4 linked regions of the Homo sapiens genome follow. The protein of the gene in region 4 purifies or fractionates together with the protein of the main gene of each other region. This does not show direct contact. Each region holds a gene or a part of one and is shown on either strand. Other genes may lie near its edges.

The links. The genes of interacting proteins can lie anywhere in the genome.
Region 1: the proteins of BBX (region 4) and SHPRH purify together in Homo sapiens (affinity purification with mass spectrometry, with the first as the bait; one large-scale study listed by BioGRID). This does not show direct contact.
Region 2: the proteins of BBX (region 4) and GREM2 purify together in Homo sapiens (co-immunoprecipitation; one large-scale study listed by IntAct). This does not show direct contact.
Region 3: the proteins of BBX (region 4) and SPAG1 purify together in Homo sapiens (affinity purification with mass spectrometry, with the first as the bait; one large-scale study listed by BioGRID). This does not show direct contact.

Annotation. Positions count from the first base shown.
Region 1 is NC_000006.12:145,922,859-145,926,358, reverse strand, and holds part of SHPRH (E3 ubiquitin-protein ligase SHPRH), read left to right. Parts: intron 1-62; coding exon 63-155; intron 156-1,512; coding exon 1,513-1,620; intron 1,621-2,573; coding exon 2,574-2,716; intron 2,717-3,500. UniProt on the Homo sapiens protein: E3 ubiquitin-protein ligase involved in DNA repair.
Region 2 is NC_000001.11:240,609,356-240,613,513, reverse strand, and holds the start of GREM2 (gremlin-2 precursor), read left to right. Parts: upstream 1-1,358; 5' UTR 1,359-1,630; intron 1,631-4,158. UniProt on the Homo sapiens protein: Cytokine that inhibits the activity of BMP2 and BMP4 in a dose-dependent manner, and thereby modulates signaling by BMP family members. Contributes to the regulation of embryonic morphogenesis via BMP family members.
Region 3 is NC_000008.11:100,238,587-100,242,404, forward strand, and holds the end of SPAG1 (sperm-associated antigen 1), read left to right. Parts: intron 1-653; coding exon 654-818; intron 819-1,816; coding exon 1,817-2,185; intron 2,186-2,304; coding exon 2,305-2,436; 3' UTR 2,437-3,318; downstream 3,319-3,818. UniProt on the Homo sapiens protein: May play a role in the cytoplasmic assembly of the ciliary dynein arms. May play a role in fertilization. Binds GTP and has GTPase activity.
Region 4 is NC_000003.12:107,770,962-107,774,461, reverse strand, and holds part of BBX (HMG box transcription factor BBX), read right to left. Parts: intron 1,835-3,500; coding exon 826-1,834; intron 1-825. UniProt on the Homo sapiens protein: Transcription factor that is necessary for cell cycle progression from G1 to S phase.

The DNA.
Region 1 (3,500 bases), on a different chromosome or scaffold from region 4:
TAGGTTCTCTTCAGAGTCTTCTGCATTGACTGTCATAATTACTGCCTTTGATATGTTTGTAGAGACTTCATGCTACCCATAACTTGATGGAATTGTTGATAGCCAGGCACCCAGGGATACCACCTACCTTGCGTGATGGCCGACTTGAGGAAGAGGTAATTATTTTTTTCATTCTGTCTATAAAAGTATATTTTCTTCAAACTTTATGCTCCATATAGTTGATATATCCTAGGACATACAACATACAAATAAATGTAATCATGTTTTCCTGTTACTTTGATGTTTCGAATTTTGTTGTGATTTTGGGTAGCAGAGAATGGCAGCAGTACGTATTATTTGGCTTCTCTGCTGATCTACCTGCAGTTATGTGATAAATGCTTGTTGTAGATATGGCTGTTGGTAGCCAACAGAATGGGATGTAAATAAATGAGTTTTAAAAAAGAAACTTTGATCTCATGGCAGATCTACAAAAGAGGTAGCTTAGTAAATATACAAACTTTTGCACTTTCTCCACATTTCTGTGTATTTTTTAAGGGGGTAAATAAAGTCAAATTTTTGGTGGTAGTTCTCCCAAAGAAGTTTCCTCTACAAAAAGTGTCGCCTCTTTTTGAAAAGAATGACATCGAAAAGAGTGATATTATAAATTATTTTACTATAAATTGTTAATAGCTTATTATGCAGATTCTTCCAGGGATTTTTGCTGTTGTTAAACATTAAAGAGCTAAAATCAAAAGAGTAGGTATGTTTGAAATGTATTGAACCTGTAAGTGGAGGCTTTATTTGAGTCAACAGGATAAAAAATGAGATTATATAAATAAGCACAGCCTTTTTGCACTGGTTGTTTTGGGGGCGGAGGTGCCCTGGTAAACTATTTTAATTAACAAAAATTTTATCTATTCATGAGTAGAGACTGATGTTTTGATGTATGTAGACACTAGAATAGCTAAATCAAACTAAATCAATTACCTCTTTATTTTTATTGCATGCATGTGTGTGTGTGTGTGTGTGTGTGTGTGTAGTGAGAACATTTAAAATCTACTTTCTTAGGGCTTCAGCATATGAATTTTGGGGAAACAAAATTCAGTTCCTAACACCTGTGTTACTGTGTATTCTCAAGGATTATTTTTAAACTGCAGTAACTAAGGAATTTTAATAACTAAATTAGCCAAATTTTAGAAAGGTGTCTTTGCTTTGCCTATCATTTGAAATATTACTGTTCTTTTTTTCCCCTCTTTGCTTATTCTAACTAAAAAAAAAAATTAAATAAGAAATTGGCAAACAAATATTCGGTGTTTCTGAAATTTTGTTACTTGGACAAGTAAATTTTGTTAACTTCCATATATAAGGAATTTTTAGCGTGACTTTTATGTTCTCTACAGTATACTTGGACTTTTATGTTTAAATGCAGTTAAGTAGCTTTAAATGTATAAAATGACCCATTCTTCTTGAAACATCATACTGAATTATATTCTAGATTGGGAGTGAAAGTTTATATTCTCTGTTTCAACACAGGCCAAACAGCTGCGAGAGCACTACATGAGCAAGTGTAATACAGAAGTTGCTGAAGCCCAGCAAGCTTTATATCCTGTGCAGCAGACCATCCATGAGCTTCAAAGAAAGGTATGCCAAAATGCAGTGTTTCTTACTTGTATTTGCCTCCAGATATCATTTTGAGTTTTGGTTTTTTGGTGGGGAGAAACTTGAATTTCTTATACATTTTGAAATCCTTAGCACCTAGCACATTGCCTGACCCACAATACAAGTTTATTTTACTGTTAGCAATGATTTATTGGTTGAGTGAACAGATGCATAAATAAGTCAACTATTTTGAGTTCTCTTTCTTTTGAACTCATGGGTTTTCTCTTACCATGAGTATATAACAGTTGTCTTTTGAAGAAAGTAAAGACTTCTATAACCTCCTTTTTATCTTGTTTCTGAGATGTTTTAAAATGTTAATACATTAGAACCACAGGTATTTTTCCTGCAGAATATATACCACTTGTCATTTCTAAAATTTCAGTTTTATGAAATCAGCAGCAAAATCTAAAGAGGTTACACAAATACACTTTTATTTTCAGTTTTTAAATCAGGTGTTGCAAATTTTTGTCTTTCTAATTCATTCATTATTTAGTATTCTGGGATATAATTTTGTGAGTTATTGTGGATTATTCATTAAGTAGAATCTGGTTCAGTTAGTTAAAGATTAGAATGAAGGCTTTCTTTCTTATGCTGATAAAGAGACCTGTGACCTTTTCACACATATAGATTGAGTATTGAATTTTCATTTGGCGTAAACAGTTTTTTTAGTTACAGCTTTGTTATATAAATGCATTCAATAAATTCCCATTTATCCAGAGTAGTTAGGAAATAGGGGTTTCTCTTTAATTATATTTTCAAAAGAGGAAGCGAGCATTGTACATGGAATATGTATACTCGTCTCCCCTCTGTGATAGTCCCTTTGAGAATAGCATTTATTACTTTCTTTGAATTTTGGCATCACCCTGCCCAGTGATGGAAGCTTAGTGAGTACTAAAAAAAATGTATTAATTGATTAACTGCTACCTTTTTTACAGATTCATTCTAATTCTCCTTGGTGGCTAAATGTGATCCACAGAGCAATAGAATTTACTATTGATGAGGAGCTAGTTCAGCGAGTGCGAAATGAAATAACCAGCAACTACAAGCAACAAACTGGCAAGCTTTCTATGTCAGAGAAGTAAGAAAACAGGAAGAAAAAGTATCTACTCATAATTTTAAAAGCAAAGAAATCCTTGTATTTTCTAGTTTCTAATTTCTCATTATTACCGGCTTTTTTTCTCCATTCATAAACCTATACAGACACATTCATACTTCTTTTTTGCAGCCTTTTTTATTCACAGTTTATCAAAATGGTTATAGGTACTATAATTGGGTTTAACTCCTAACTGCGACCTACCTTTGTTACTTTAGTTACTTTAATATTTTACACTTCATAATGTGAGCACATTAGTAACTATTGAAATTATACAGGAAAAGTGCTTGGCAAAGTGCCTCGTATATAGTGCATAATTACAGATTTAATTAAGTATATATACATATATATATATATTCAACCAAGGAATATAACTCTTAGCCATTTTTCTTCTTTCTTCCCAATATTCTGCTTTTATGTTTCATCCTGCAGGCACCTCCTCATATAGAGCAAGGATGTCAGGAAGGCTATCTGTAGTCAGGCTTAAAACGGAAGAATGTGGCAGTCGTACACTTTCAAAGATATCTGAGACAGACATACATTTTTCATGCTCTTTTTCAGTTCCTGAGCACAGGACTATCAAATTTTTTTGGTATCTTTTACGGTAGACAGCCCAATATTATACTTTGAATACATTCTGAAGGAAAACTCACTCAAATGTTGCTGTTAAAAAAAAAAAAAACAGCAAACAGTTTCTTTAACACTTTGTTTGGCAACCATTCTCTGAATTTGAGGAAATTGACCTATTATTCTTTTCTTTGTATTGTGT
Region 2 (4,158 bases), on a different chromosome or scaffold from region 4:
AGGCTGCATTTCACAATTCCTGTAATGTGCCCACGTAAGAAAGAAGGCAGGTAGTCTGTTTGGTGATAGTATATTTCAAGAACTAATTGTTATTTCCTGTGAATTTGCAACCCAATGTGCTGTGAGTTGAGTTGGAACTAGAATATCAAATACCAAATAGCATACAAAAGGGATAACACTGCAAAAAAAAAATTCAAGTCAAAAATCAAAACAGAGCTCAGAGATTTCAGAAGCAATGGCTTCTTGTCAAGAATAACTGTCATTAAAATTTCCATAAGCACCAGTGAAATTGATTTTGGGGAAAAGTCTAAGGGAGGGTCTGTTTTATAAGACACACTGAAACTTTATTTTATTCTGAATTTCCCCAGCCAAGTTTGTAAGATCTCAGATTTTTCTTGGGCCCTTTCCCTGCCAAGGGGCCAAAGGTTTATCTCTATTGACACATACAGATAAAAAATTTTCATCCAGGAACCTCTATCAGCAGAGTCTGAATAGTCGTCTTTGGCTGGTGAATCACACTAAGGGAGTCTCAGTCCTGAGATGATCAGTGGTGAGAAGTTCAAAAAATAATGAAAAGAGCAAGCACTTAGGCGTCACAATACGCTTCTGGTATAACGCACCAAGCCGATGGAGCACAAGAATTGGTCTGGCGTCATTGTTTTATGTTCTCTGGATGTTGAAGAGTCTGATTTGCATTAGAAACCTCTGCATTCAATAAACAAAAATCAGGATAATAATGACCAAAGTACTATTTGGAACAGAAAACAAATTCAAGCAATGGGTGTTTTGCACTGAATTCATTCAAGATTTTATTAGTTAAGCTCTCACTTAGGTTATTAGGCTCAGCTTGCTTTTTATTTCACTGGCCTCAGTTACTGCAAACAAAAGGAGCCTGGTGTGTGTGTGTGTGTGTGTGTGTGTGTGTGTGTAAGCGCACGTGTATGAGAATGTCAGACATATCACACACAGGCTTTCTACATTCTTCACATTGGAAACCCATCAGCAAAAGGAAGAAGATCTGAAGGGAATGAGTGTTTTTTTTTTGTTTTTTGTTTTTTTCTGGTTTAGGGGATGGAGGGAGAATTTCTCTACATAAACAAGAAGGTTAGAATTGGAAGTCTGCTAAAAAAAATGTTAGAGCTGACCACAGGGTTGTAAATCCACTGACTGGAAGGAGGAAAAGAGAAACATTGCAAGCGACTGAAGTGTGTGGTGTGGCTGCAATGTTTGTGGGTTAGATGAGAAACAAGCGCTGAGTGAAACAGAGAAGGGGGGTGGCTGGTGTGATTTGTTTGGTGTTCAGAGCCAATAGAAATCCCAGACTCTGATAATATCCCCATGCAGCGCCGAGAGGATTCAGAGCTAAGTCTCCGGGCTCCTTTCACATCTGCAGGAGCAGCCAGCCTGGGACCGCGCGGCGCGGGGCGCGCTCTCGCCTCTCCTGCACCCTCAGCCGGCGCGCTTCTCTTATGGGCGTCTGCTGCAGTCTGGCTGCGGTCGAACTGAAAGCGGCGGCGGGAGACCAAACTTAGACCCCGCTGTGGACTAGAGAACTCAGAGAAGGCAGAGGGAGAGGGAGAGAGAGAGAGAGAAGGGACCCGAGGAGGAGGCTTCCATCACGTCATTGCAGGTACGCAGCTTGTCACGACTAACGTGACACAGACACGGTTTCTGATTTCTACCTTCACCAGGCACTTAGAATGAATTGACGTTGTTTGTTCCGTGGCTGGTCAGGACCGAAAGCCCTGAGTGGACGTCTCGCCGGTTTCACCCCGGGTAATTCAAGCTGTTGGCGTGTGTCTGGGGGCCACAAGGTTTATTCACCTATTGAATTATGCGTGGGTGTAACATAAGGACCTTCAAACTTGACCGTGATCGCTCTTTCTTTCTCTTTTAAATAACGTCAATACCAATATGTTGTCATCCCACCAATAAATACCTCTTGGTGACCGCCATTCTAATCATGACTATAGCGAGGCAAACACCATCCAATTGTTAGAAAGCGGGCTACGAACCTCTCCCACCTACCTACCAGGTTAATATCCTCCCTACAGGAATAGGAACCACAGCGGACTTCGGCAGAGTTTTGATTTTTTAAAGCATATGGCCAAGGTGCACCCGCCTCATGAGGGAAATATCACTATTATCACTACGCTGTGGTTGAAGGAGAAGAGAGAAGGGAGGTAGTTATTTTTTAACGTGATTGTCAGTGATCCTTCCTGTGTACCTGACTTATTTCTACATTGTCTTACGAGTTTAAAAATGCATTTGTATTCTGCACGCCAGGCACGTTCAGTTCCAGGATCTCACATATTACTACATTAAAAAGTCATGAATTGGAACTATCTAGTAGATGTGATAGTTGTAAGAAAATATTGATGTTTGATTTTATTTTATTTGATCCTAAAACTCATAAACTTCTATTTCTTTTTTTTTTTTATTTTGAGGTGTGGGTTTTGTTAAAAAAATCTATTTCCTGAGATTTTATCATGTTTGATTTGAAATTTTAAAGATAGTTATATAACTCCCCACCCCTTGATGACTTGTGATTAAATTAGCATTGCTTAATGAGTTCAGTCTTTCCTGGGAAAAGCCAGAGGGGACTGCAAGAAGTCAGTTAAAAAATTGGTCTTGCTTTGCAGTCTTCAAGGGCTGGCTGGTATTCATGTGGCTCTGAATCCCTATGAAAAGCGCTTTTTCTGCAGTGGAACAGATTGGGACTCCAGTACAGCCAGAGAATGGCTCTGCAGCAGGTGCAGGGGCAATCAAATACCTTACCTTTCGTCTAAACAGCACTCTTCCCAGTGGAGTCTTAGTCGATCATATCCAAACCATTCACTGATAATTCGCAATCGACTCACCATTCAGCCGTGCTTAGCTTTCAAGGTAGCCTTTGTCCCAAGACATGTGCCCGACCAAGGAAGATAAGAAAGTTATAAGAAAGGTATTTGTGTTGTATATCACAGTGGAGAATTTATATCGACCTTTTTTTGTTTGTTTGTTTTTTGTTTCTTATCAGATGAACATGTTCTTTCTGTCATTAAAGGAAATGCATGCTTAGCTCTACCATAGAGTCAGGAAAACTTCATAGTTTTTGCCCATCGACTGATCTGAATGATTTAACTGGGTGCTTTTTGAAATCGTGTCAAAGTATAGACATGGCAAGTGAATATTATATTTGGGAGAAGGCATTTTAACTTTATAGATAAATTTTTTTTCCTTTTACATCAGAAAGAAACTGTAAAGAACTGATCTGTGCAAATAAATATAAGTTAATCGACCCAACTACATTCTATTGGTAAAGAGTTGTTTTGTATGATTGTGAGCATTTGTCAATCTTTTATAAATAAAATAGCTGCAATAAGTTGGGACCTATTTCTGTCTTATCTTTCTAACTCTAAAGCAATGTTGGGTGTGTTGGTAGCAACTTTGTGAGTGTGAGACGGATTATATTCACTTTGTATAGACTAGGAGACACTGATGGCTTTTCAAAGATAAATATAAACAATGCTGTGATTATTCATTGTTTTTTGCTATCATTCTTCACCGAGAGAGGTAATCAACAGTTCATTCTCTATGAATCTTAGTAGAGCCAGCCAGAGCTTTACATACCCTCGAGTTATAAGTTTGGTAAAGTTTAAACAAGGTACATGCCTTTAAATCTCTTTAAAGTAAACATCTCTTTTTCTAATGCAAAGGAATGGTATTAGACTCTCAGTTCTTATTGATATGGAGAGGATTGGCCTGTCTGGGTCAAGGGCAGACACTGAGAGACTGCAGAGGCACAGGCACTCAACAGATTAGTTCAGCCACTTTTGTACTTCAGTGTTGCTACAGCAATTGCCCCTGTGCAACGTGCCAGGTTGCAGGCATGTTCTCAGTATCAGGGTCCTTCAAATATCTACGGACAAAAAAGAATTATTTCAACCAGGGAAAACGTGCCCAGCACTCGGCTTAAATGGGTCACACAAGACATTGTTTTGAAGGACAAGGTGTTCAATTAAAAATTAGACCTATGGTGCCATCTTCTTCTTGGATTAGCTGCTTCTTGATAGTTCTTTTGTTTCTAATAATATTAGGTATAATAGGCCTAATAATGTCTAGAATTAATTTTGATCACATGTCAGGCTAAAATGTGGTCCTCAGACTCAACACTGA
Region 3 (3,818 bases), on a different chromosome or scaffold from region 4:
TGGTCATGTCTTGTTAGGTGCCCTTTCTTTCCCTCAACTTCTTCAGTGTATTGTGTGACTCATGGAAGATTAAATGTTGACTCTAGCCAATTCGAAGAGTAAACAACCTGGAAGGATTTTATGGAACAAAAGTATTATAATAACTACCATTTGCATAGTCCTTTATAGGTTTAAGCCACTTATTATTTGTTCATTTATTTCTTGGTACAGCCTTGTGAAAATTTGAATAGAGCTTTTGTTCCCCTTATGTTAAAGATGAGAAGACTGAAGCCCAGAAAGGTTAAGTAGGATCTTAAGTTTCATTGCTAGTAGGTGCTAATACAAGGATGAGTTCATTCTTTCATTTATTCATTCAGCAAGCAACAAGTGCTTATCATGTGTTAGGGACTGGGAAGGTTGTGGTGATACAGAATTTAACTTGCGTTTTCTAACTCCAGATCCTGTGCTTTTTCTTCTATAGTCGATGTTCACTGTATCATGGGTTATACTATTTCAGCTGCATATTCACCCCACAGGCTCACTTTGTAAGAGTGGTATTAATGTGGACCCTGCACACATACTGCACAGCTCACTACATCCACCCCACTCCCACTCAGGTTACTCTAGGCTCCTTCTATTTATGAAAGTTATTTTCTCTGTCTTCCTACTTACAGAATTATCAGAAAAGCTTAATTGATCTCAATAAAGTTATCCTACTAGATCCAAGTATTATTGAGGCAAAGATGGAACTGGAAGAGGTAACTAGACTCCTTAATCTTAAGGATAAGACAGCACCATTCAACAAAGAAAAGGAGAGAAGGAAAATTGAGATTCAAGAGGTATTTGTATTTGATTATCTTTGAAAGTACTCCTTTGGGGACCTTAGACTGGATTCTAAGGTCATATTCCTGTGAGTTCTAAAACATTTTTAATTTTGTGTTTTTATTCTGATGATCAGTGACAAAATTTTAACCAGCAACAAAATGTCTCCTTTGCAATGATAATTAGCCATTGTATTTCCCAACGTGGGTCCATGGATGGTACTGGGAGTCTCTGCATTACTGCAGTTCTTCCTTTCTTTGGCCTCCATCTGTACTGCTCCCACTCCAGAGTACACTGGGAACCAGCGGCCACTGACTTTGCTCCAGGGTAGACCTGGAGAATCCTGACGGGACTGATTTTGTTACAGGGGCCCTGAAAGCCTCACCTCATAGAGATTATCCAGATTGATTCAGACCTTTTTAGCACTCTGAAATATGACTGCCTCATCAGAGATCTCGAACTACCTCAGGATCAAACTGCTTTTGTGATTCAGATAACTAAAATGTTTTTCTCTGCCTAATATTAGGGAAGAATGTTAGGCTGTGAATCCCTGTACATTCATGAATGCTAATACCCCATTTATAGTCTCACATTTCCACTAAGAGTAAGAGGCTAATATGTAAGAGAAGCTAGGAAGGTTTTTTTTCCTCTTTAAGGAGGGAAGAAAAAACTGTTTTAGGAGAATCGAGCAATGTAAGTTCATTTCTCTGTTAAAATTTATTGTGAAAAGGAGATAAAATTGACATAGGCATTTATACAACAATTGTATAAAGTCTAAAAATTAAATTTTGTTGTCATAGTTTCAATGTCAAATAATTTTTTAAAACTTTTATGAATTGGATCTTACACCCTAAAACTTCTCTTCCTAAAAAAAATTATTACAAAGTTTTCACTTGGAACTGGACTACAGTACAGTCTACTTGTAGTTTTCAATTCTCATTCTGACAGACGTACTTAGGATGTATGTGGTGATTGTGGTTCAGTGTCACAATGCATTTTTCTTTTCTTCATGAAGGTGAATGAAGGCAAGGAGGAGCCTGGAAGACCTGCAGGGGAGGTCTCCATGGGATGCCTTGCTTCTGAGAAGGGAGGCAAAAGCAGCAGGTCACCAGAAGACCCTGAGAAACTTCCGATAGCCAAGCCTAATAATGCCTATGAATTTGGTCAGATTATAAATGCTCTCAGTACCAGGAAGGATAAAGAAGCCTGTGCACATCTTTTAGCCATCACTGCACCAAAAGATTTGCCGATGTTTTTAAGTAACAAACTTGAAGGGGATACATTCCTTCTCCTCATTCAGTCTCTGAAAAATAATCTTATTGAAAAAGATCCCTCATTGGTGTATCAGCATCTTTTATACCTGAGTAAAGCAGAAAGGTTTAAGGTAAGTGGCTAAGTATTTTATTAGTAGAAATTGGTTTTATTAGGGTTTCTGTAACTTAAAAATGTTACTTATGCTAACATAGTTGGTTTTTTGTTTTTTTTTTTTTTTGCTTCTTTTAGATGATGTTGACACTAATTAGCAAGGGCCAAAAGGAGCTAATTGAACAGCTGTTTGAGGACCTTTCGGACACACCAAACAACCATTTTACTTTAGAAGATATACAGGCCCTAAAAAGGCAGTATGAGCTTTAAATCAAGATAATTGTTAGATTTCTTCCATGCATGTATGTGTTCCAGGAATGTTAATGAGATGGTATTGTAAAAGAGTTGCATGGATAAAACTTGGCCTAGAAAAGTTTGGTCTGCACTATAAAACATTTTACTTATTTTCCTACATAGAACATGTATATTCTACAATCTGCTTTTTATTAGTTGTAAATATTTTCTTATGTACCAGAACCAAATAAGTATATTTAGAACTTGTTAAAAATACATTTTAATTTATGATATACATATTATTTTAATTACTTGTTAAAATTTTGAGTTAAGTTGCATTTCTTTGGGCTATGAAGGAGTCCTCTTAAGTTTGATAGAAATGAATTTCTTGTAACATTCTTTTTTAAAAGTGGAAGTCATTAACAGTGATTATTATATCACTTATATCCTGCTAAGATACACATAAATCCCATTTTGTACTAGTACCTGTGGATTACAGTCAGTTAAAATGAAATGCAACACTGAAGTCTATAACATGAAATGATTATTAAATTGTTTATTAATTTAGAGCTATAAGAGGAACTTATTTTTTCTAATACGGAAGCATTGCCTAATAATTAAGAACAAAAATTGCCAAAAATTTCTACCACTTTTTACTAGATTTTAAAAAGCTACTTTCTTTTATATTGCCTATATAAGCAAAAAACCAACCACTGTATTAAAGCAAACTAAGCCTGCATTTATATCTGAATTATTACCTCCATATTTTACCAAACATTTGAATGTCCCCCTTCCCCCTTTTTTGTTTTCTGCTTTTATGACTGTATTTATTCCTTTACTGTAAAAGAATATGAAGAACTCATACATGTTGAAAGCTCCTTTGTTGACTGGGTCAAAGTGAAGGAATTTCAATCTCCATCAGTGTACTGTCATTTATTTCTGCGGTCTGTAGTGCGTTCCCCCTTTCTGGAGCATTTTCTTATTCACTTAGAAGTGAAGATGAAAGTTAGTATCATGTTTACTATTTCCATATTCATTATTATTTTATCTAATCTTTTATAGTTACAGAATATTTTAACTCATCTTGGGTAAATATCTTTCAAACTGTGCCATTTTTCTTTGAAACTGCTTTCTTTGTTCATAAGTGAAAAATCTGTAATGGGACTTTAGTCTTCAAACAAAATTTCTCCTTTTTAATGTTATTGAATTTTTATAAAAGTAAATGGTGGATTGTTAGAAATGTATCCTATGTATGGAGTTTACTTACAGAAATGGGACCACTCTTTTCCTATACATAGCAACTTGAAATTAACTTTAGAGACAAAAGGGAACTTTCTCTTTTGGTGCCTGACACAGTGACATTAATAACTGTAGGTGATTTTGTTGAGCTTTGTGATAGGCACTGTGTGTCATTTATC
Region 4 (3,500 bases):
TGCTGCTAGCTTTTCCATTCAAAAACCAGCCAAGGTATGGGAGTCCTTTGCTGGTGGGCACTATTCAGTCTAATTTCCCTAAAACTCACTGAACTGACATCCCTGGGGATGAAATAGGCCCAAGTATCTTCATTTGGGGCTTGTTAGACCTAGGACTCACACATGTCTTGTTGGAATATAGCTTGGCAAAAGGTAGTCCTCCAGGCAGATGCTATATTTTAAAATAGAGAATTTATATAAAACACTCAATGGAATAAAGGTAAACAGGTTAACTATTTTCTGGACATTATAATGTTTTAAAGAGCTCTTCGGTTCAAATGATGCACCCGCCTTGGCCTCCCAAAGCGCTGGGACTACAGGTGTAAGCCACTGTGCCTGGCCCACTTCAGTTACAGCTTTGATTACCTAATGAAGAGAGAAAGGCAGTTGCTTCTAGAGCCTACAGGTGAAGATTCTGACAAACATACGTGCTTGATTCTCGAAATTCCACCAGTTTTCAAAACCAAACCTAAAGCTCTGAATATTTAATAATAATCTTTCAAAACAAACAGCCAGCCCATACCAGTGGGGGGAAAGAAGAGATTAAAATTACTTTAATTACATCCTGAGAACTACCTACAAAATGAATACACTTCCCTTAATGGTGCTAGAAAACATGTAAGTAAAGTAACAAATAATTATGATCTATAAACCATAAAGAAATATACAAATGTAAGGTATTATTTTGATACCATATTGTTTTTTATGGCAGTTGTTTTCAATAGGTCTAAAGGTGAAATTCTGTTTGGTTTTTGAATTCTTTTCAGGTTTGTAGAAGTTACTTACCTCTGTCAACATTAGCTCGCAGAGAGGTGAGCATGCCCTCAGACACCAGGGTTTTATAAAGAGCACCTTTGCAAGACCTCTCGGATTTCCTGGAACCACAAGTTTCTATTTTTCTGTGACAGTCACTGTCCTCAGGCTTGGCCTGTCCTGATAGGCTGGGTGGTAGTGCATCTTCCATAGGGGTCAATGGTTCTGCTTTTATACCCTCTGGTGTCTCACCAGAAATGTTCTTGCTAGCAGAAATACTAATGAAATCTGGAGGTCTTGACTCTTTGGTGGTGTCTGAGGATTTCTCCTTTGACATTTTCTTCTCTCTTGATTTCACTTTTTTCTTTGGTGGCTTGGCATCCAAAATGCTTCCCTTGCCACTTGAGGATGTGCGGACCTTCTTGCGAGGGGTATCTCCAAGTTTCTCTATGCCCCAGTCTCCTTTTGCGACGGCTTCAATGGTATATATGACGCTCTCAATGTCAGATTCCGAAGACTGCCTCTTTTTGCAAGTCTTCTTGGGTGTGGATTTATCATTTCCATGTCGATCCATTTTGCTTTTCTTCTTTTTCTTTTTTAGCTTTTCTGGCTTGTTTAATGCTGCGGGATCCTCAATGATCATAATTCCATGAGGATGGCACATATGATCCTTTCTACTGGGAACATCACTAATTATTATCTTGCTACTGGCAGAATAAGAAAAATCAGGAAAATGACTACATTTGTGATCTTCTTCTAACTCTTCCTTTCTAATTTCTTTGGGATCTTCCATTTTTATAGCCATTATGTCATCTATTTGCAATGCCTCAAAATTTCTCAATTCCTTAGAATCTCTTAAATTTTCCTTAGCCGATTTTTCAAATTCTGCTTCCTTCTGTAACCTAGTTTCATCTGTTTTCTCCATTTTAATTTCTTTTTCTTCCTTTCCCTTCTCTAATTCTTTAATTCTTCCACCATCGGATTCTTTTGCTTTTATTAGCTTTGATTCTTCCATTTTCATCCCTTCTGATGCCAGGCACATCTAAACAATTAAAACAAAATGGGAGAGCACCCGAAAGTATCCTTATTATTCCACCTTCAAAATTAAAGTTTTCAATTATATCTGTTTTAAAAATAATCAAAACACACTTTAAACTTTACAACAATCAGCCCACTTCTGCCAAACTAACTGAAATGAATCAAATTGATAGAAGGCTGTGGGCACTGTTATACAGTCATTTAACTCGTCAAACGTATCTCTGAATTGTCATTTTCTAGCTTCAACAGAAGCTTTTCCTATGAAAACAAGACCTGGAAGAAGGAGGAAGGGATTCAGAGTTGAAAGACCCAAGTCTGATTCTTAGTTTTGCTACTTATTAACTTTGTGACCCAGAATGAATCACTTACCCCCTCACTCCTCTGTGGCTTCTGTAAAAGGAAAACGATCCTAGGACCTATCTCAGAGGATTCTGTGTGGTCTAAGTGAAACGATGTACTTAACTGTAGCACAGGCTGAATATCCCTTATCCGAAATGCTTGAAAACGAAAGTGTTTCAAATTTTGGATTTTTTTTTTTATTTTGGAATGTTTGCGTTATATACTTACTGGTTGAGAATTCTTAAACCAAAAATCAGAAATCCGAAATGCTCCAATGAGCATTTCCTTTGAGCTTCTTGTTGGTACACAAAAAGTTTTGGATTTGGCAGTATTTTGGAGTTTGGATTTTCAGATTAGGAATGCTCAACCTGTATTTAATCATCCTCAAACTCTGTTCAGATATCTGCCTTTTCTTTTTTTCCAGGGGAAATGAGGAAAGCAGAAATAATTTCTACCTGTCCACTTGAAATTAGAAATGATATAACCATTTGCTAAACAATTACAGAAGGTTTTGATTAATGAACAAAACATTATAGGTCCACAAATGCTGATAGACAACTCTAAAGTCATAAATGCTCTGAGAACAAACTTGTTTTTGTTTTCTTAACTCACTTGCTGGCAAATTGATCTGATGTGAACTCAGCTGGCTGCAAATTCTGACCTGAACCAACCTGAAACTTTATAGTCTTAAATAGTTTATTTCACTTACTGTGACCATTCATACTTTTTGTTATTGGAATAGTGGTGCATTCAAATATGCACTGGGGAAGTTACTTAGTGTAATATGTATCTACTGTATAATTTTCCTAAAATCTGAAAGATTCTGAACACCAAAACCCATCTGGCCCCAATTTGGTTAAGTTTTTATATTTCTCATCAAAACTCCCCAAATTTCACGTACAGAACATTCAAGGGGAAAGTTGCCATTTTCCTCTCTGGCTCCCAGATACCTTGAAACTTTAATATAGAGCTATTTTTTAAAATGGGAAATTTAAGCTTATTGTAAAACCTGTTTTCAGTGCCTGGGTTTTCATTTATACACACTTAACTGCAAGGCTCCCAAAATGCCAGCCCCCATGGAGGACACTAATGATACAAAAATCAATAAGGTCAGGTCTGTCTGCCTTTGAGGAACTTATAAAGAGATTGATGATGCCGATTTGGTCAAGGGCAGCAAGGAAGTCTTAGTCATAATTTATTTTATCTACTTTGTATTAGCAACTTAGAAGGGAAAGAGTATTGGGGGTTGCTGAGTCAATGCAAAATCAAGCACATGAGTAGGAAACTGATCTGTTTTTAAAAACCATCATTTTATTAAATGGCAAGTTGTC